Linked DNA regions of Homo sapiens: region 1 is linked to region 2. The links come from fine-mapping of genetic effects on gene expression. A gene starts in region 2. The other region holds a variant in brackets. All regions are shown on one strand. Distances are between the middles of the regions.

Region 1 (8,000 bases), 27 kb before region 2:
CTGTTCATTCTGGCATACTATAGTAGTCTCCCTAAGGCTAGTCTGTCCAGGTCTATCTGAGTAGATGTAACCTTGTGAACTGCTTTGGCCCCTAAATCTCTCTAGCTTCCCTCAGCCTGCCAGTAATGAACACTACAAATCAGAGAGGACTGACCAGCTCTAGTCAGCACTCTTATTCTTGGGACCAACTGAACCAGCATCAGGGGAAGGACAGGACTTATCTGTCATCTCTTTCAACATTCATTTTTCTTGTTTCTGGCTCCTAGAATCAGAAAAAAGGGCGGATGTGCAATCTTCACCTGTTTATTCGGTAGAGGGTGCCATCTTCAGGTAGCCCTTCACGTTGTACAGAAAACAATGGAGACTTCTCCTCCTGGGGCAGGTAGGGAGCGGCCTCACTGGGGGAAGACAAAGGGAACAGTCTAAATTTGGAAGTGTTTCACCCATCTCAGGGTTCCCATTATAGAGCCTCTGTCACCCTTTCGTCTCCAGTGGTGTCACCCTTCCTAAGCTACAGAGATGTTGCTTCAACTTACAGCTCAGATAACAAGTGCCACTTCCAGGCTAAAGGAATCCACTCAGCAAACTCCCAGTATGAATGTTTCTGCTCTCGGCTGGAGAAACAGAAGAAGCATTAATGAAGGAGAGGGATTCTACAGCCGCACAGTCCAATAAAACTTTCTGTGGGGATGGAAATGATCCATTATCTGTGCTCCCCAATATGCCAGTTGCTAGCTCCAATTAGCTACCAAGCACCTAAAATGTGGCTAGCGCAGCTGAGAAACAGAGCCTTTCATTTTATTTCACTTTAATTAAAGAGTTCTAGAGCTCTTGCCTCTAGAGCAGTGCTTTTTAGTAATGAATGTCATCACGGTATTCCACCCATGAGTGCTTCTCTTTCCCACGGCCCCACTTCAATACCGCCCTTGCACTCCTCTACCACCCCTTTATTAACCCCAGCCCCCTGTCCCCAAGTCTCACAAGTCCTTGGTGAGATGGAGGCACTTCCAAACAGGAGCCATGATATGATTTGGTAAGCCATTGGGAGCCATTCCTCGGCAGTGTGGTTTCTGTTTCTGAGGATCAAATTGAAGAAAATATAAGGGAGCAAATTCTACAGGTTGGACAAAGTCCCAGAGACAGCTCTTTCCCAGTTTTTATCTTCTTTGGCAATACCTCCCCCTCCAATCACTGCCCTATCAGCATCTTAAAAGATTTGTGTTTCAACCACTATAATGACTTCTTCACCTTCTGCTCTACTCCTCCATCGAAAATGCAAAATCTGTTACCTATTTTCTGTTCAGCTTCCTCAACATCTCCATGGTATTTGATTCACAGGATTCCCTTATGCCTCTTTGAAACTCCCGCCCTATGGAATAGTCTCCCTTACTCCTCTCCCCTCTCTTAATATTCCTTCACAGGTTCTCCCTTCTTGACAGGTCTCCTCGATGATGGTATTCCCCAGAGTTCCTGTCGTCTTCTCGCCCCTCTACACAGGCGCGCACGCGCACGCGCGCACACACACACACACACACACACTCCTGGTAATCTCATCTCATGTCCCATGGCTTTGACTACTGTCTTTTTGTTTTTTTGTTGTTTTTGAGATAGGGTCTCACTCTGTTGCCCAGGCTGGAGTGCAGTGGCGCAATCTTGGCTCACTGCAGCCCCAGCTTCTGCCTCCTGGGCTCAAGCAATCCTCTCACCTCTGCCTCCTGAGTAGCTGGGACTACAGGCACACCCCACTACACCTGGCTAATTTTTTTGTATTTTTTTGTAGAGACAAGGTTTCGCCATGGCCCAGACTGGTTTTGAACTCCTGGGCTCAAGCGATCCCTCCCCCTCGGCCTCCCAAAGTGCTGGGATTACAGGTGTGAGCCACCACACCTGGCCTTCTTTAAAATTTAGAGACAGGGTCTTGCTGTGTTGCCCATGCCAGACTTGAACTCCTGGGCTCAAGCAATCCTCTTGCCTCAGCCTCCTGAGTAGCTTGAAGTACAAATGCATACCACCAAACCCAGCTTGACTACCATCTTTATGCCTGATTATCAAGTTTACATTTCCGTCATGTAAACCTGACTCAGTCTCAACTTCTCTACAAGTTCTAGACAGTGTTGTGGCAAGCCATATTAGAGCATGAGGCAAATGGAAAAAAACAGTAATCAGTTGAAAAAATCAGTAAAGCCGGGCATGGTGGCTCATGCCTGTAATCCCAGCACTTTGGGAGGCCGAGGCGGGCGGATCACGAGGTCAGGAGTTCGAGACCAGCCTAACCAACACGGTGAAACCCCATCTCTACTAAAAATACAAAAATTAGCTGGGTGTGGTGGTGTGCACCCGTAATCTCAGCTACTTGGGAGGCTGAGGCGGGAGCATTGCTTGAACCCGGGAGGGGTGGAGGTTGTGGTGAGCTGAGATCATGCCATTGCACTCCAGCCTGGGCAATAAGAGCGAAACTCCGTCTCAAAAAAAAAAAAAAAAAAGAAAAAAAAAATCAGTAAAGATCCTGTCTTTATTTAAAATTTTGATATTTTGTTCATCATGGAACGAAATATCCATGATTTGTTGCATTGATTTTTTTAAATGTTGCATCAAAATAGCATTTATCTCAATTACTGAGGGTTTCTGTTATCCCTTAGATGTTGCACGTGAGGCAAGTAAGGCACTGGTCTCATATATGCAACTGGTGACCAGACATCTCCAGCAGAATGACCCATGGCCCATGGGCACCTCAAACTCAACATGTCAGAAAGTGAATTCTGTCAGGTGTGGTGGCTCACATCTGTAATCCCAGCACTTTGGGAGACCAAGGCGGGCAGATCACTTGAGGTCAAGAATTCAAGACCAGCCTGGCCAACATGGTGAAACCCCATCTCTACTAAAAATACAAAAGTTAGCTGAGCGTGGTGGGGCGTGCCTTTAATCCCAGCTACTTGGGAAGCCGAGGCAGGAGAATCACTTGAACCCAGGAGGCAGAGGTTGCAGTGAGATGAGATCACTCCACTGCACTCCAGCCTGGGTGACAGAGCAAGACTCTGTTTCAAAAAAAAAAAAAAAAAAAAAGGGAAAAAAGAAAGTGAATTCAACTTCTCCCCTCCCCACCTTTGCCCCTCCCACATCCCTCACCCTTTTCGTGTTCCCAGGTTCAGTGCATGATGCCACCATTTAAGCTGGAAACTGCTATTCAACTTCCTCCCTCCCTTCAATTCCCAAATACTGTTAATTCTCTTACATATTCCATTATGTGAGAGAACACAGAAACAAAAGAATTACAAAAATAAAAATAAAAAATTACCTTACATATCTCTTCTTTTTTTAAAGACAGAGTCTGGCTGGAGTGCAATAACGCGATCTCAGCTCACTGCAACCTCTGCCTCCTGGGTTCAAGTGATTCTCCTGCCTCAGCCTCCCGAGTAGCTGGGACTACAGGTGTATGCCACCACACCCAGCTAATTATTTTTGTATTTCTAGTAGACACAGGGTTTCACTATGTTGGCCAAGCTGGTCTCAAACCCCTGGCCTCAAGTGATCCACCTGCCTTGGCTTCCCAAAGTGCTGAGATTACAGGTGTGAGCTACCGCACCTGGCCTCTTACATATCTCTTGAATCTGCCCCCTCCCTGCTCTTCTCTTCCTTCACTGCTTGATTTAGGACCTATCTCTTACCTGGATAACTGAAACTGTCTTTTTTTTTTTTGAGACAGTTTCACACTGTCACCCAGGCTGGAATGCAATGGTGCAATCTCAGCTCACTGCAACCTCCGCCTACTGGGTTCAAGCGAGTCTCCTGCCTCAGCCTCCTGAGTAGCTGGGATTACAGGCGTGCGCCACCACATCCAGCTAATTTTTTTTTTTTTTATTTTTAGTAGAGACGGTGTTTCACTATGTTGGCCAGGCTGGTCTCGAACTCTTGACCTTGTGATCCACCCACCTTGGCCTCCCAAAGTG[C/CT]TGGGATTACAGGCGTGAGCCACCGCATCTGGCAAAGCTGTCTTCTGTCAACTATAGTTTGACCTATTTTCCCAACTGATGTTATTTTTCTACTTAAAAATGTTTGTTGTACAGTTTGTGTACAACTGAATTGTGTGTTTTGTTTTGTTTTGTTTTGTTTTTGAGATGGAGTCTCACTGTCTCACCCAGGCTGGAGTGCAGTGGCATGATCTCAGCTCACTGCAACCTCTCCCTGCCTGGTTTAAGTGATTCTCCTGTCTCAGCCTCCCAAGTAGCTGGGACTACAGGTGCGTGCCACCATGCCTGGCTAATTTTTGTATTTTTAGGAGAGACGGGGTTTCACTATATTGGTCAGTCTGGTCTCAAACTCCTGACCTCGGGTGATCCACCTGCCTTGGCCTCCCAAAGTGCTGGGATTACAGGCATAAGCCACCACGCCCAGCCTCAATTGTGTATTTTTAAATGGTTAAAATGGCAAATTTTATGTTATATACATTTTACCACCAAAAAAAACCATAAACAAAAACAGCCTTTGTTGGTTCCTATAGGTCTATGTCCTTTCATATTCTCCAGTTTAATCTCGCCTACAACTTTACTCCAGGCTCTATGCTCCAGCCATAATCAATTTATGGGAAAACCATCCTCTCTGGCAAACTTCTACTTATCCTTCAAGAAGCAATTCAACTATCATTCCTCTGTGAAGCCTAGGCAGTTAATTACCCTTTCCTTTATATGCCTAAATCATTTTGTTCACTCCTGGGGTAGTGCTGATTGCACTGTGAACTTGTGAGGCAGGATACACTGTCTTATTTACGTTTGTTGTGTTTCCTAACAGAGAACAGATACTCAATATATGAATGAATAATCTTGTTTACCATACCCCTTCTTCTGCGCTCTCCCTAATATGCCAAATGTTTTGGAAATGGACCCTTTTTTCTTTAACCTGTTTTGTCTATTATAGTTACCAGGTCAAAGCTGTCCTTCCTTTCTCAGTACCTTGCTGGTCCCCTAAAATCCTACTATGTCCCCATTCACTTTCTTGTCCATTGAGGTTACCCCTGAAGTAGATCCTCGTGGGGTGCTTCGGGGCACTACAGGCTCAGGTTCAGATGAGCTCTCACTTGGGCCCTCACTTTCTTCCACATCTTCAGCCTCAACCTGGAGAAAAAAGTCTTCATCCCGTGGAGCACCATCCACCTCTTCTCCACCTGGACAGGCTGCTGGCTGCCGGATCTTCTTCGGTTTGGTGGGGCTGCTCACCTTGGGGCCCTCAGGACAGGACACAGGGGCAGGCAGGGCTGTTGAGAGCTCTTCAGCCAGTTCCTGAAGATACAGAAGTGCCCTGTGGGAACGGACAGAGTCAGAGCCATTCTCACATATGACTGAGAACCCACGTTTCCAGACATGGTTGATTTTTATCTCAATGGAGCCTCCCAATAACCCCATGATTAACCAATTAACTCTATTAATTTCCCCTTCCCCCTTGGAAGATGAAAAACCAGAAATCTAAGTTATGTGACTTGGCCGAGATGACTGAGATAACAAATGTGGAATCTGAACCCAGGTCTTCTCACTCCAAGTTCAATACATTTTTCATCCTACCACAGTCAAAGAACACAGAGGGCAAGAGAAAGAATGGAACAGAATATATATACTGACATATACTGGACAGTAAAACAATAAAGAGCTGGGTAAAGTTTGTGAAAAATGGCATAGGACATAAAGTACAGACAATAATTCTTAGATAAACCAAGTTAGCAATACATACCATTAATAGTGCTGCGGTAAGAGCCTAAAGGACTGCTCAAGTCCCTAGAATCCAGACACCACCCCTGCTTACCTAATACCTCATCAGTCTTCTCTCTCCAACATCTGCCCCACCCTGATCCCTTCACCCAACCCCCCTCCACCAAGCTATGCCCCACAATCCTTACACTTGGGCAGCCCTTCGGCGGGGTCGTTCCCCAGAAGGGGTCTCAAAGTCCTCAGGGGGCCTCTTTGGAGATTGAGATTCTGGCCGATCTAGGTCTTTTGACAACTTCAGCAGCAGCAGCTCTGCCTTGGACTTTCGACCTCGTTTCTTAGGCATGGGGGTGGACAGAGGGTTGGATTGATCTAAGAGACCAGGAACCAGTGGGGCTGATGGAGGATTAGGCTGTTGGGGCCTTTTGGGGCCTTTTCGTGTCCTACCACCTCTCTTCCGGCCAGGCTTTGAGGCCCTAGGCTTTGAGACCTTTGACATCTCTGAAGAAAGATCTGTGGAGAAGAATATGGGTCTGTGAGATGGGACCAGAACTCAAACCTCTATGGAAAAGATTACACTGTACCCAGGTTTGTAAGATCCTATGAGCTCAATCTGCTCTTTCATCTTAAGCTTGGCATGGGGAATAAAAAGATAAGAGGACAAGGTACATACCTGGCTGTTCCAGTCTGGAGAGGCTTTCCTGCTCTGGAGGGAGCCTCCTCTGATCAGGAGAATCCTCAAATCCAGGCAAAGGGGTAGGTAATGACATCTCTACGGAAGCCTCTGCACTGGTCATTTCTGAAGAGGTCTTGACATCAAGCTGATTTAGCACCTCTTGTCCAGGAGAGTCTACCACAGTCATGTTCCCCACGGGGCCGGCCTCCCCCAGGGCAACATAGCCGACCCCGCAGGTATCCATCAGCACCCCCCAAAATGGCTGCCCCTGCATACAGAGACACACAAATGAGTAGAGGACAAAAACTATTTGTACTAGCTCAGATTTTTATTTCCCCATCTTTTCTCCCTCATTCTCACACTCATAACCAAGTTCCCTGATTATTCACTTATTCAACAATATTTACTAAGCACCTTCTATATGTCAGGACTGTTCTGGAAACTGGTAATATGAGCCAGGTGCGGTGGCTCACACCTGTAATCCCAGCACTTAGGGAGGCTGAGGCAGGAAGGCAGCTTGAGCTTAGGAGTTTGAGGCTAGCCTGGGCAACACAGCAAGACCCCTTCTCTAGCAAAATAAAATAAAATAAAAAAATTAAAAACAAAAAAGGAAACTGGTGATATGACAATAAACAAGACAGACAAGGTCCCTGCCCTCATGGAACTTACATTTTGGTGAAGCAGACAATAAACAAGTAAACAAATAAAGCTTCCATTTTTTTTTTTTTTTAAAGACGGAGTTTCACTCTCGTTGCCCAGGCTGGAGTGTAATGGGGCAATCTCAGCTCACTACAACCTCCACCTCCTGGGTTCAAGCAATTCTCCTGCCTCAGCCTCCTGAGTAGCTGGGATCAAGGTGCGCACCACCACGCCCAGCTAATTTTTGTATTTTTAATAGAGATGAGGTTTCACCATGTGGGCCAGGCTGGTCTCAAACTCCTGACTTCAGGTGATCCACCCGCCTCAACCTCCCAAAGTGCTGGGATTACAGATAATGAGTCACTGCGCCTGGCCATAAAGCTTCCATTTATTAAATGCTAACTATGTGCCAAGCACTATACTAAGTGCTATACATACATTATCTAATTTAAAGCTCATATATTTTCTTGTAAGGATGAAGCAGTGAATGCACAATTATTTAACCTCTGTCTCTGAAACCCAATGAAATAAAACACACACACACAGACATACACACACTCCAAAAAAGAAGAGAGAGAAAAATTTGTCTAGCATGAATCTAGGAAAGGGACACCAACTTCCTCAAAATATACTACAAAAAAGAGCTGCCAGATACTACAAAATTTAGACCAAAGTGAAGAGGCATACTTAATGTTAACATCTCTTTCTGTAAAGATTAGTCAAGGAATAAGTTTATTTAAGAATAAGTAAAAGGCCAGGCAGGATGGCTCATGCCTGTAATTCCAACACTTTGAGAGGCCAAGGAAGAAGGACTGCTTGAGGCCAGGAGTTCAAGACCAGTCTGGGCAACATAGGGAGACCTCATCTCTACAAAAAATTTTAAAAGTTAGCCGGGCATGGTGGTGCGCACCTGTAGTCCCAGCTACTTGGAAGGCTGAGACAGGAGGATTGCTTGAGCCTAGGAGTTCGAGGTTACAGTGAGCTATGATGGTGTT
Region 2 (12,461 bases):
AGAAAGTATGATTTAATAAGTGATATTATGGTAAATTTCCATATTTCTTAAGAGACATTGAAGTTAAAGGAGTGAAATGATATAATGCTTGGATTTGATTTAAAGTAACTTCATCAAGGAAAAACAAGAAGGCTGAGTGCTGTGGCTCACGCCTGTAATCCCAACACCTTGGGACGCTGAGGCGGGCGGATCACCTGAGGTCGGGAGTTCAAGACCAGCCTGACCAACATGGAGAAACCCCCATCTCTACTAAAAATACAAAATTAGCTGGGTATGGTGGCACATGCCCATAATCCCAGCTACTCGAGAGGCTGAGGCAGGGGAATCGCTTGAATCCAGGAGGCGGAGGTTGCAGTGAGCCAAGATTGCACCATTGCACTCCAGCCTGGGCAACAAGAGCGAAACTCTGTCTCAAAAAAAAAAAAAAAAAAAAGAAAAAAGAAAAACAACAAAAAGAGAAAGTAAATGTGGCAAATTTGATAACTGTTGCATCTGGTCATGGAGATTCTTTGTATAGTTCTACTTTTACGCTGCTTAAAAATGTTTGATAAAACCAACATGGCATATGTATACCTATGTAACAAACCTGCACATTGCGCACATGTACTGTAGAACTTAAAGTATAAAAAAAAAATTTGATAAAATGGTTGGGTGCAGTGGCTCACGCCTGTAATCCCAGCACTTTGGGAGGCCAAGGCAGGTGGATTGCTTGAGGTCAAGAGTTCAAGACCAGCCTGACCCACATGGTGAAACCCCGTCTCTACTAAAAATACAAAAATTAGCTAAGTGTGGTGGCAGGCACCTGTGATCCCAGCTACTTGGGAGGCTGAGGCAGGAGAATTGCTTGAACCCAGAAGGCAGAGGTTGCAGTGAGCCGAGATAGTGCCATTGCACTCCAGCCTGGGAGACGAGTGACTCTTTCTCAAAAAAAAAAAAATTCAATAACACACATATATACCCAATAGATAACTCTTCATTTTAAGCTAACCAGTGGTTGGACTCACAGTCTGGCCCCAACTTACCTTTGCAGTTTGATCACTCAACAATAAGACTCAGTTCTAGCCTCACTATACTATGTGACACTTTTACATTGGCCACTCACTTTAAGGCCTATTCTTTGTGTTCAAGCTGTTTCTTCTTTTTTTTTCTTCCCTAACTGGGCAATTACTTATCTTTCAAGGACTAGGTTAGATGTGACTTGTAAGTTTTCACCAATCTTTTGTTCATACTACTACTGGGTTACCTCATACTGTAGATACTATCTTCTTATGCCATGGTAAGCGTTCCTTAAGGGAATATAGCACAAAAGTTAAGGGCACAGTTTCTAGATCCAGACTGCCTGAGGTCACATCCTGGTTTAGCTACTGACTAGCTGTGTTACCTAGGGCAAGTAACTTCATCTCTCTGTCTGCCTTGGGTAAGTAACTTAACCTTTCTGTGTCTGAGCTGTGTTGCCTTGGGCAAGCAACTTAACCTTTCTATGCTTCCATTATCTCATCTGTAAAATCGCATTTACTTCATAGAGTTGTATTATTATTTTTATTTTTAGAGATGGAGCCTCGCTTTGTTGCCCAGGCTGGAGTGCAATGGTGCCATCTCAGCTCACTGCAATCTCCATCTCCTGGGTTCAAGCGATTCTTCTGCCTCAGCCTCTGGAGTAGCTGGGATTACAGGCATGCGCCACCACGCCCAGCTAATTTTTGTATTTAGTGTAGAGACAGGGTTTCATCATGTTGGCCAGGCTGGTCTTGAACTCTTGACCTGAGGTGATCTGCCTGCCTCGGCCTCCCAAATGAGCCACTGCGCCCAGCCTTCATAGAGTTGTATTAATCTTCCTAAATGGGTAAGAAAGGGTTCAGAACAGTTTCTGACACACAGTTAAATATTCAACAAATGCTAATTTATAAGGTTAGGACTCTCTTTTTGAGACAGGGTCTCACTCTGTCACCCAGGCTGGAGTGCAGCGGCACAATCATGGCTTACTGCAGCCTCTACCTCCTGGACTCAAGCAATCCTCTGGCTTCAGCCTCCTGAGTAGCTGGAACAACAGATGAGCACAACCATGCCCAGCTAATTTTTATTTTTTGTAGAGACCGGATTGCCATGTTGCCCAGGCTGGTCTCAAACCTCTGGGCTCAAACAATCCTCCTGCCTTAGCCTCCCAAAATGCTGAGATTACAGGAATGAGTCACTGCACTCAGCCCAGGACTATTTGTTTTCATATTCCTCCTCACACCCAGTTTAGTGTCTGGCATGTAGATGCTCAGTGAATGATTGATTTGGGTAGTTTTGGTTCTTTATACGGGTCTTCAGGTTAGTCCCAATGTACTGGCATGGAGCTAGTTACTTGAGCAGGTCTTCACAAAGGTCTGAGTAGCAGGTGATAAAAGGGGTTGTGAAGTCTGGACTCCTAACTTAAGTGGTGGAGATGCTAAAAGAGAAACAAAGGCAGCAGAGTTGCTGAGGGTAGGGAGTATGGCATTTATTAACCCTGTGTTTCCCCCGTCACTGGTCACTGCTCTTGACTCGTAGAACAACAGGTACAGAACTGCAAGGGATCATCCCCAGCTCCGTGATCACCAGATCCACAAGCTCTGGGGGAGTCACATCATAGACTAGATTCAACAACCGTAGGGATGCGTGGTTCTGCCAGTTAGCCAGCGCAACATGTTCTCCCCGCTTACATTGCAGATCATCAGGGTCATCTGCAATGGAAGGCGTACCCATTATGTTCTTTCAGAAAAGAAGTTCTAGTTTATCCGCCCCTCTCCCTCCCTCTCAAGTCTTCACAGGTAGCTGGAGGCTTCTCTTTTGCCTCCTTACCTAGCTCATTAGAGACAAAGGCATCAGTCTGCACACGCTCACAGAACTTGTATGTTTCACAGCAAACCAGCACTGGTACATTATGGGCTCGAGCCACCAGGGCTAACTGTGCTGTCCCTACCCGTGACATCACAGACCCGTTGGCCAAGAGTGCATGAGCTCCCAATAGCACCTTGGAAACCTGTTTCACAGGAGAAGAGGAAGAAAAAAATGTCATTGTTGTATCAATGCAAAATAAGGTCCCCTACTTACAGGACAGCAACATTAAGACAAGTAATAAATCTCAACACCTGTGAAAAGAAGGGAAAGAAACAAAAACAGACAACAAGTAATAAATCTTTTTTTTTTTTTTCTTTGAGATGAAGTTCTGCTCTTGTTGCCCAGGCTGGAGTGCAATGGCGCGATCTCGGCTCACCACAACCTCTGCCTCCTGGGTTCAAGTGATTCTCCTGCCTCAGCCTCCCGAGTAGCTGGGATTACAGGCATGCACCACCACTCCCAGCTGATTTGTTGTATTTTTATATTTTTAGTAGAGACGGGGTTTCTCCACGTTGGTCAGGCTGGTCTCGAACTCCCAACCTCAGGTGATCTGCCCGCCTCAGCCACCCAAAGTGCCAGGATAACAGGCGTGAGCCACTGAGTCCGGCAATTAATAAATCCTTTTTTTTTTTTTTTTTGAGATGGAGTCTCGCTCTGTCGCCCAGGCTGGAGTGCAGTGGCATGATCTCGGCTCACTGCAAGCTCTGCCTCCTGGGTTCACGCCATTCTCCTGACTCAGCCTCCAGATTAGCTGGGACTACAGGCGCCCACCACCACGCCCGGCTAATTTTTTGTATTTTTAGTAGAGACGGGGTTTCACTGTGTTAGCCAGGATGATTGTGAACTCCTGACCTCGTGAACTGCCCTCCTCGGCCTCCCAAAGTGCTGGAATTACAGGCTTGAGCCACTGTGCCCGGCCTAATAAATCTTAATGATGGCTTTTCTTCTGTGAAAACACCTGACCACTGACCCACCAAATCTCCCACAGGAAAAGTAAACTTTGAAGTTACTTTTGTCTTGTTCCCTCTTCCTGGTTGCTAGTTTAATGTAATGTTTTTGCAATAGCTAGACTGCTGTAATATACTGTCAGTGTTTTTCCAATTAAATAGAAACAGAGCTATATAATTATTTTTTTTGACACAGGGTTTCATTCTGTCACCCAGGCTGGAGTGCAGTGGTGCAATGACAGCTCACTGTAGCCTCAACCTCCTGGGCTCAAGCAGTCCTCTCACCTCAGCCTCCTAAGTAGCTGGAACTACATGCGCATGCCACCATGCCCGGGTGTGTGTGTGTGTGTGTGTGTTCAAGCAGTCCTCTCACCTCAGCCTCCTAAGTAGCTGTGTGTGTGTGTGTGTGTGTGCGTGCGCGCGCGCACGCACTCAAGCAGTCCTCTCACCTCAGCCTAAGTAGCTGGAACTACATGCGCATGCCACCATGCCCGGGGTGGGGGTGGGGTGGGGTGTGTGTGTGTGTGTGTGTGTGTGTGTGTGTGTGTGTGTGTGTGTACAGGGTCTCATTATGTTGAGCAGGCTGGTCTTGAACTCCTGGGCTCAAGTGATCCTCCTGCCTTAGTGCTGAGATTGCAGGCATTGAGCCATGGCACCAAGCCAGGGCTATATAATTCTAATATTTTTAAATAATTGTGGCTGGGCACAGTGGCTCATGCCTATGATCCCAGTACTTTGGGAGGCCGAGACAGGGGGAACTGCTTGAGCCCAGGAGTTCCAGCCTGGGCAATGTAGCGATATCCCATCTCTACAAGAAAAATAAAAAACTAGCTGGGCATGGTGGCACACACCAGTAGTCCCAGCTACTCAGAGGCGGAGGTGGGAAGATCACCTGAGCCCAGGAGGTCAAGACTGCAGTGAGCTGTGATCACGTCGCTGCACTCCATCCTTATCTCAAAACAAAAACAAAACTGTAACTTTGGGAAGGTGAGATTATGTCTATACTACTACACCTTTTCACCGCCAACTTTGGAGTCCTTTTCCTCTGTACTTACCTCTGGGAGCACATAGGAGGCTGCAGGAATCAGCAGGTAGGAGGCTGGGACACCAGCATGGACTAGAGAACGTAGTGTGTGCCTTCCTTCCAGCCATGGCCGGCTGTCCACCACTACCACCCGAAACCGCCGGCCCTCTGTCCAAGCCTCCTGAAGAATTCGTGATACCAGAGATGAGCTAGAGTGAATGAAGAGGAGGATTCAGTTATAAATGTCAGTAACTGATGACTAACTTATTCCCAAAGGCAAGTGGGTAGTCCCTTCTTCAGATCATTCCAACTCCCAATCTGCTCAGTCACAAGGTCTGGACCATACCATCCATATACCAGGATCACATCTCCATTACTGATCTTCTGGTAAGCAAAGCGTGAAATTGCCTGAGCTGCTAGCACAATCTTCTCTTGCACATACCGATCAATGGCTGCTCGAAGTTCTGACTTGGCCTAAATGGAGTAAAATCCTTAGTGAACAAGAAATGGACACTTTTATCCCTCTGATGATCATGCCAGGTGCTTGAATATGTGTATGATGACAAGCCTATAGAGGGCTCAGAGATGGCACAAGTCAGAATGGCCAAACCATTCCTTAACCCTTGACTAGGGCAAAAAAAGGCTTACGTTGGCCTTCCCGGGAGTTTTTAACATGTTTCTTAATTTTACCCACAGGTGCATGCCTTCCTTATTTCTCATACTCATCACCTCCTCTTCCCGCTTGGAACTGCCCACACTGGTGATTTCCTTGTTAAGGAACTTGATGGCGTTGTGCATGCTCGCTGACAGGGGACGGCACTGAGTCAGGAAGCTATAATACAACAGCAATACCTTATATCTGCGCAACTCTTCACAACTTACAAAGCCTTCACATTTAAAAAAAAAGTCTTTAAAAAGAAAATAGAACACAAAATGAAAAGAGAGATAGAAAAGCAGGAAAAAGAGTACAAGACAAAGATTGGGCGAGCTGGGAGTGGACTTATAGTGTTGTCCCTACCTCATGTAGGGTTTTAGTTTATTCACTAGATCCCTGGAGAGTTCTTCATTAGGCGGTGTTGTGTAATCCTGAATCACCTATAGGGTACACAAGGTGATCTGCAAAATACCCCTTAATAAAGATCTCTGAACGGGGGCTGGGGGTAAGCTTCACTGAGGAAAATGTTCTGAGGGTAGGAGTATTCCCTCTGTCCCCCAGAGATGACCTTGGGTGACAGAAGCTGGGGTAGTATTGGGGGAGGTGGGGTTGGATCATAAGAGAGAACAGGATGGGACATACCTGCTGCAAGGCACGAAGCAGGGCAATACACCGGGCATTGGAGCCACTGACCAGGCCCTGGGAGTACTGCAGGCCGAGTCGCACCATGGCTGGGTGGATCACAGAGGATGGGATGCTGATGGGATGGCGGTGTCACATACTTTGAAAGGGAGCTTGAGCATCTACTGCCCACCTGCCCCTGATGAAAAGGAACTCCCTTCACTAGCAGATTTCCCCACTCCTCTACAGTTCTGCCTTGGGTTCATACTTTTTCCTACAGAGTCCATCTCAGATTACTAGAAACTTTCAATACTGACTTACTAAAACTCCTCAGACTCAAAAGTTATGACAATTTCATAGGATCCTACCTCATAAACTGGGTCAGAGAGTTTTGTCTGCTGTACTGGGGTAGGTGAGAGAAGAGACTGACTTTGGATCCATAATCCTTTCGTGTAGGAACCTTGACAAAACAAGGGAACAGGACCAATGGCCCAGAGTTTAAAAAGGATGGGATAAAGCTGGAAAGGAAGTGAACAGTAAGACTACTCTGACCCAAGCACCTATCCTTCTCACTTTGCACCCAGCACCTTTCCTCCCTCCAGTCCATTTCCCTAGGCTCTTTCTAGCCAGGCACCAAACCCACTTCCTACCTGTTGACGCTCTGGTTTTTTAACAAGCCTTCTCAGAAGTAGGTCATCAACCTGAGGGTACTCAGGGAGACGCTTCACTCCTGAAAGATAATCATCATGTTTTCAGGACACTGTAGGTCTTGAAATGTGTAATTTGCTCTTAGGGTATAAGGGGCATCAAGAAAAACAGGATGAGGTGGAGAAAACGGGAGAATAGGGTAGAAAAGGAAATAGGGATAGGATAATGGGGTTGCAGGAACAATTCAGAACTCTGGGTCCCAAGAATGAGAGGGGAGAGCTGTTTTACTATTGGGCAGCCTGAGCTGGCGTTATAATTAGGAGTAAGGGAGGTCTTAAAATGAAGGGAAGATACCTGAGGGGGTTTCTCCAGCTGTGCTGGGGCTGGCCTTAGGAGGTGGTCCTCCTTGTTCCCCTTTTCTTGCCTGTTTCAGGGCCCGCTCGGCCTCCTGCTTGGCTCGACGCTCAGCCCGAAGTTCGGCCTTACTCCGACCAGCTGGAACTTTCTCCCGAGGAGTGCCCAACTGAATGCCCGATTCTGGCAGTTCTCTGGTTGGGCCTACTAAAAGCATTAAAAAAAAAAATGCCCAAGCTGCAGGCAGGTGATATCCGTGCCCCAGCTAAAACTAGCTTCTCTCCTTGTAAACCTCTTTGCTTTACACACTTGCTCAAATCAACTTTGTCCTGTCTCTCCCTTATCTCTCCCACCACATCCCTCTACCAGCTCCACACCCCAGCCCTTTAAAAGAGACCCCTCACTCACCTTGACATTGGGCTGCAGATACAGCAGAGCCAGTCTCTGGTTCTGCCCCCTTTTCTTCCTTCCGTTTCTTCTTCTGCTGTTTCTTTTCCTTCCGAAGCTGCAGCTTTTCTTCTTTGGTCATTTCCCTCCCCACTGCCTGAGACACAGACATAGGATACTGCTCTTCCCCAACAATTCCAAAGGGGAACAAATACTATTGGATGCTTACAAGATTTCCACATGGTTAAATCCCTAGTTCTTCCTAACTTCCACAAGCTACCTGTTGCAAGCTTACATCCACAGAGGCTGACGTTTCTCCTCCAGGGACAGAATCATATATCCCTAGGGTTGCAAGACCTCTGTAAAATCTCCTGGCTTTACTGAGAAATAAACCGACACGGGATGGGAGCTGGGGCGGAATAAAGCTGGCACAGCCTCCTGCGTAGCGCTTGGCAGGCGGCTTGGGAGGGAAGCCTCACTTACCCCAGGCCCAGGGGGAAGCTCCGCCTTCATCCCGGATCCCGAGTCTGCATCAGAAAACAGGGCACAAAGTGAGCCAGAGAGACTCCGGGAGGGTTTGGGGGCACGAGTACTCGGCGCAGCCGGCTGCTGGGTTGGCATGACCACGGATCCGCCGGCAGGCGCGAGGCGAGCCAGGGATCCGCGTGGGGACGCACTGCGCGGCGGATCAAAGGAATGGAGGGGTCACCGACCCTCCTCACAGCAACCAGCCGGTGCGCGGCGCGGGACTGCGCTCGAGACTGTGTAGACCGGAGCCCAGCGTGGCGCTGGAACGGAGCGGCGGGGCCCAAAGGCGCTCAAGGCCCGGCACTAGCTGTCCGGAGCTCGTCGGCTCCGCGTACCAGTAGGCAGGCCCGGCTCTTCACTCACCCTCGCGAACAGCCACGGCCACAGCAGCCATCGCCCTCAGTCCTAGGCTCCGCCCGCCGTGGTCACGGAGCCGCCCCGCTGCCTCGCTCCGCGGCTGCAGGGTCCACAGCGCCACCTGGGCTGGAGGCTGAGCCGCAGAAGCGAAGCGCGCAGCCCCAATCGGACTACAATTTCCGACGGGCCCCGAGGCCCCGCCCCGCACTACGGGTTGCAATGAGGGCCAACTCCACTTTGGGCTCCCTATCCGGACAGGTGGCTCTTGCCCTTTAGACTACAGTTCCCAGCATGCCCAGGCGATTGCGTCCCAGAACCGACGTCCCACCGCCTTCCCACATCGGATCGCAGGGCTCCCAAAATGGCGAGTGAGGCTGCGGGGACTCGCTGAGCAGCGGAGGGGGAGCGTGCAGAGCCGCTGCGGCCCTCACAGTCCGGAGCCCGGCCGTGCCGTGCCGTAGGGAACATGCACTTTTCCATTCCCGAAACCGAGTCCCGCAGCGGGGACAGCGGCGGCTCCGCCTACGTGGTGAGGAGCGGCCGGAGCCGAGCCGGGCCGGGCAGGGGCGGGGATAACGGGCCCGAGCCATCTCGGAGCGGCCTCTGAGGCCTGACCGCCACCCTTCGGGCCTGGTCCTGGGCCGCCGACTCCCGACGGCCTCTCTGGGAGCTTATCTCATGTGTGTGATTCGTGCAGTGGTCGCCCGAGCTCCTGTAGGCCCTTAGGCCGGGTCGCTTCCCCGAGCTAGGCCGCAGCTGCCCTGGTGGGCGTCACTGGCCTCTTGGGCAGTGAGACTGCAACACAAGCGTCCGAATTTCCCCCGGACTGGCTCTTCAGCTTTGGGACTTGGCCCTGGCGAAAACAAGCGAACTATCCCTCGGGAGATTAGCGCGTTACTCCGGCGAGTTGCCAGGCAACTTCCGGCCAGGGTTCTCAGGGGGGTTGCGCAGACCGCAACCCTAAAATGCTTGACTACTTTTGTGTCCTCAGGCCTATAACATTCACGTGAATGGAGTCCTGCACTGTCGGGTGCGCTACAGCCAGCTCCTGGGGCTGCACGAGCAGGTGGGACTAGCACCCCTGCCTTGAGACAGCTTCAAGCCCTTCCCTACACGTGGACATCAGTGTCTCCCTTTACCCGCTCTTCTTGTTCCCGTAGGCTGTAGTTCCCCTTTAATCACTGCCACAGGGTAGGGCCCTGGTTTATCTTGTCTGACATTTCCGGGAACTCCCTAAGAAGCTTAATGTCCGCGCAACAACTGCTCCTTCCTGTTCTTATATTCTGGTTTTCTGTCCAGTCTTACTGCTCTAGTAGCCTTTACCCCTGCATGGACAAACCAACCCCTCCCCCCACTACCTCCACCCAGGCTGTCAAAGCACATTCCTTCTGTCATCTGAGCGGCAACTTGAAATTCTTTTCCCTGCTTATACAAACGATTCACCGATTTCCTTTTGTGTTCTTCGGCTCATTTCAGTGTGTTTAGCTGTGCCAATTATCGTTATGTATCTGTGATGCAATGTTTCTCCTCCTTCCTTACCAGATCTTAAACTCTATTTAACTCAGTAGAGCTCCACTGATAATTAGTTGTGCAACCCTGAACAAGTTACCTGATATCTTTTTTTGGGACGGAGTTTCTCTCTTGTTGCCCAGGCTGGAGTGCAGTGGCACGATCTCGGCTCACTGCAACCTCTGCCTCCTGGGTTCAAGCGATTCTCCTTCCTCAGCCTCCTGAGTAGCTGGGATTACAGGCGGCTGCCTCCACACCCAGCTAATTTTTGTATTTTTAGTAGAGAGGGGTTTCACTATGTTGGCCAGGCTGGTCTCAAACTCCTGACCTCAGGTGATCCACCCACCTTGCCTCCCAAAATGCTGAGATTACAGGCATGAGGCCTGTAGAAACTGATTTCTTTGGGCCTCAGTTTCTACAACTGAAAGATGGATTCTTTGATCTGCAAAGTCCCTTTAAGTCCTAAGATATTTTGTGAACAGACTTAGCTATTAACTGTGCACTTTATAAAGCCCTTTCCTTCCTTTAAGGGTTCAGTGAACAGTCTTGCTAGGTGGTCAAGGGGCTCCCTATAGGTCCTGGCCCAGTACAAATCCTCCCCGTACTGTGGAGGGGCTGACTTGTACACAGTAAAATAGAGCACAACTTATATCTAGGACAGCTCCCTTGAGGTGCTACCGCTGTCAAAGGAATTGTTTCTCAGATGACCAGGGTAGACAGGGGAACAGGGACTGAGGGAAGGGAGGGGCACCCAAGAGAACATTATGAGCATATGTAGATTGCCTCATCTCATTTTCTGTGTTTATGTGAAGGGTTGTATCTCTTTCTCTAAATAGCTTCGGAAGGAGTATGGGGCCAATGTGCTTCCTGCATTCCCCCCAAAGAAGCTTTTCTCTCTGACTCCTGCTGAGGTAGAACAGAGGAGAGAGCAGTTAGAGAAGTACATGCAAGCTGGTGAGTGGTTGCAGGAAACTAGGTTGACTATATTGAGGACTATGGGGAGAGACTTAAAAACAGCTGGTTCTGTGGAAGGGCCTGATTTAATTTCTAGATCTAGGAAGGCTCTTGTTTGATCTGTTATGCAGTTAGCAAAGTAAATAGTGTACGAGGATGTGTAACTCTGTGTACTAGCAAAACAATTTGGGCACTAACATCTATGAGAAATACTAGTATAACACTAGTCTTAATATCAGTGGAGAGAACTTAATTTGTATCTGATGTGCTTTAGATTAACATCATTGTTATTTCCCTAGTTCTATAGACTGGACTCACCTAGATGGCAGCCAAGGGTGGGGCAGGTGAAGAATTTATGCAAACAGTGAGTGAGGTGAGGCCAGCTGGGGGATGTGGCAGGCCACCATCAGCCCAGGAAATGGGGTCGGGGGAACCTACTGAGAGGAGGACTGGGGAGCCAAGAGTGAGTGCTAAGTTCCTGTAATAATGTTCTCTTGTCCTCGTAGTTCGGCAAGACCCATTGCTTGGGAGCAGCGAGACTTTCAACAGTTTCCTGCGTCGGGCACAACAGGTAGGGCTTTGGGTGGGACCAAGATTTAAGGAAAGGACCTTGCTGGAAGGTCATGTCTTTTATTTTTTTGAGACAGAGTCTTGCTCTTTTGCACAGGCTGGAGTGCAGTGGTGCGATCTCAGCTCACTGCAATCTCCGCCTCCCGGATTCAAGCGATTCTCCTGCCTCAGCCTCCCAAGTAGCTAGAATTACAGGCGCCTGCCACCATGTCCGGCTCATTTTTGTATTTTTAGTGGAGACGGGGTTTTGCCGTGTTGGCCTGGCTGGTCTCGAACTCCTGACCTCAGGTGATCCACCCGCCTTGGCCTCCCAAAGTGCTGGGATTACGGGTGTGAGCCACCACACCCAGCCAGGCCATGTCATCTTAATAACAGAGGAGTCATCTTTTTTAATGGAATGGAACTTCTATTCTTATGAAATCAAAGAAATCACAGCCTATATTTAAGCAGCTGAGAATAAAGACACACAAGGGACCTAGAAATAGAGTTGGGCATAGGTCAAGGCAAGGGACAAGGCAGTGCTTCCCATCCCCATGTGTGCTCACAACAGGAGACACAGCAGGTCCCCACAGAGGAAGTGTCCTTGGAAGTGCTGCTCAGCAACGGGCAGAAAGTTCTGGTCAACGTGCTAACTTCAGATCAGACTGAGGATGTCCTGGAGGTGAGGCGCTTGTTCAGCACTGCCCCTTCTTCCCCTACATCCTGGGGTCCTGGGCTTGGAGAATGATTGGAACCAGCCAGTATGATGAGCTGTACTTCTATCCCTATCCCCAGGCTGTAGCTGCAAAGCTGGATCTTCCAGATGACTTGATTGGATACTTTAGTCTATTCTTAGTTCGAGAAAAAGAGGATGGAGCCTTTTCTTGTGAGTTTCTCTGGACTTGACTGCAGTACAAGGGTACTTCAGTAGAGTTTGCAGCCCCCCTAACTCCCCACCCCCACCCCCAGAATGAACATTGCCTCAGGGCACTTCTTTCTTGATTTCCCTTCCTTTAAATCTCACTATATTTTCATTTTTTTTTTTTTAACCTGTAGTTGTACGGAA

Direction of the effects. Positions count from the first base shown, and alleles are read on the strand shown. Sizes are in standard deviations (SD) of each study's normalised expression.
In carriers of allele CT in region 1, the expression in thyroid of the gene that starts at base 8,444 in region 2 tends to be higher than with C alone (moderate effect, 0.51 SD a copy in GTEx).

The links. PIP is the estimated chance that this variant, and not a neighbour inherited with it, causes the effect. A credible set is the group of variants that fine-mapping cannot tell apart.
Region 1: its variant is the best candidate, but not a certain one, in a credible set for the expression of EIF2B4 in thyroid (GTEx, PIP 0.52).

What each region holds. Positions count from the first base shown.
Region 1 is chr2:27,336,945-27,344,944 of GRCh38, forward strand. GTF3C2 (general transcription factor IIIC subunit 2) reads right to left here. Exons shown (of 19, transcript NM_001035521.3): 2 at 6,364-6,634; 3 at 5,882-6,203; 4 at 5,004-5,289; 5 at 982-1,076; 6 at 537-614; 7 at 300-398. The coding sequence starts at 6,610. GTF3C2-AS1 (GTF3C2 antisense RNA 1) reads left to right here. Exons shown (of 4, transcript NR_038427.1): 3 at 267-382; 4 at 493-859. Among named protein-coding and RNA genes, the nearest start is that of GTF3C2-AS1, 5.4 kb to the left of the region's middle. The variant C/CT (reference allele first, on the strand shown) is at 3,948.
Region 2 is chr2:27,361,895-27,374,355 of GRCh38, forward strand. EIF2B4 (eukaryotic translation initiation factor 2B subunit delta) reads right to left here and starts at 8,444. Exons shown (of 13, transcript NM_001034116.2): 1 at 8,390-8,444; 2 at 7,982-8,025; 3 at 7,520-7,655; 4 at 7,112-7,318; 5 at 6,760-6,839; 6 at 6,478-6,569; 7 at 6,131-6,245; 8 at 5,852-5,928; 9 at 5,563-5,665; 10 at 5,180-5,307; 11 at 4,865-5,042; 12 at 2,824-3,004; 13 at 2,458-2,705. The coding sequence starts at 8,420. The coding sequence ends at 2,506. SNX17 (sorting nexin 17) reads left to right here and starts at 8,722. Exons shown (of 15, transcript NM_014748.4): 1 at 8,722-8,912; 2 at 9,375-9,449; 3 at 10,729-10,846; 4 at 11,353-11,417; 5 at 11,967-12,077; 6 at 12,191-12,281; 7 at 12,452-12,461. The coding sequence starts at 8,850. It overlaps GTF3C2-AS2 (GTF3C2 antisense RNA 2), which reads left to right. Exons shown (of 4, transcript NR_183827.1): 4 at 5,530-5,986. RefSeq lists enhancers at 7,690-8,651, 8,125-8,404, 8,625-8,714, 8,652-9,613, 8,735-8,794 and 1 more.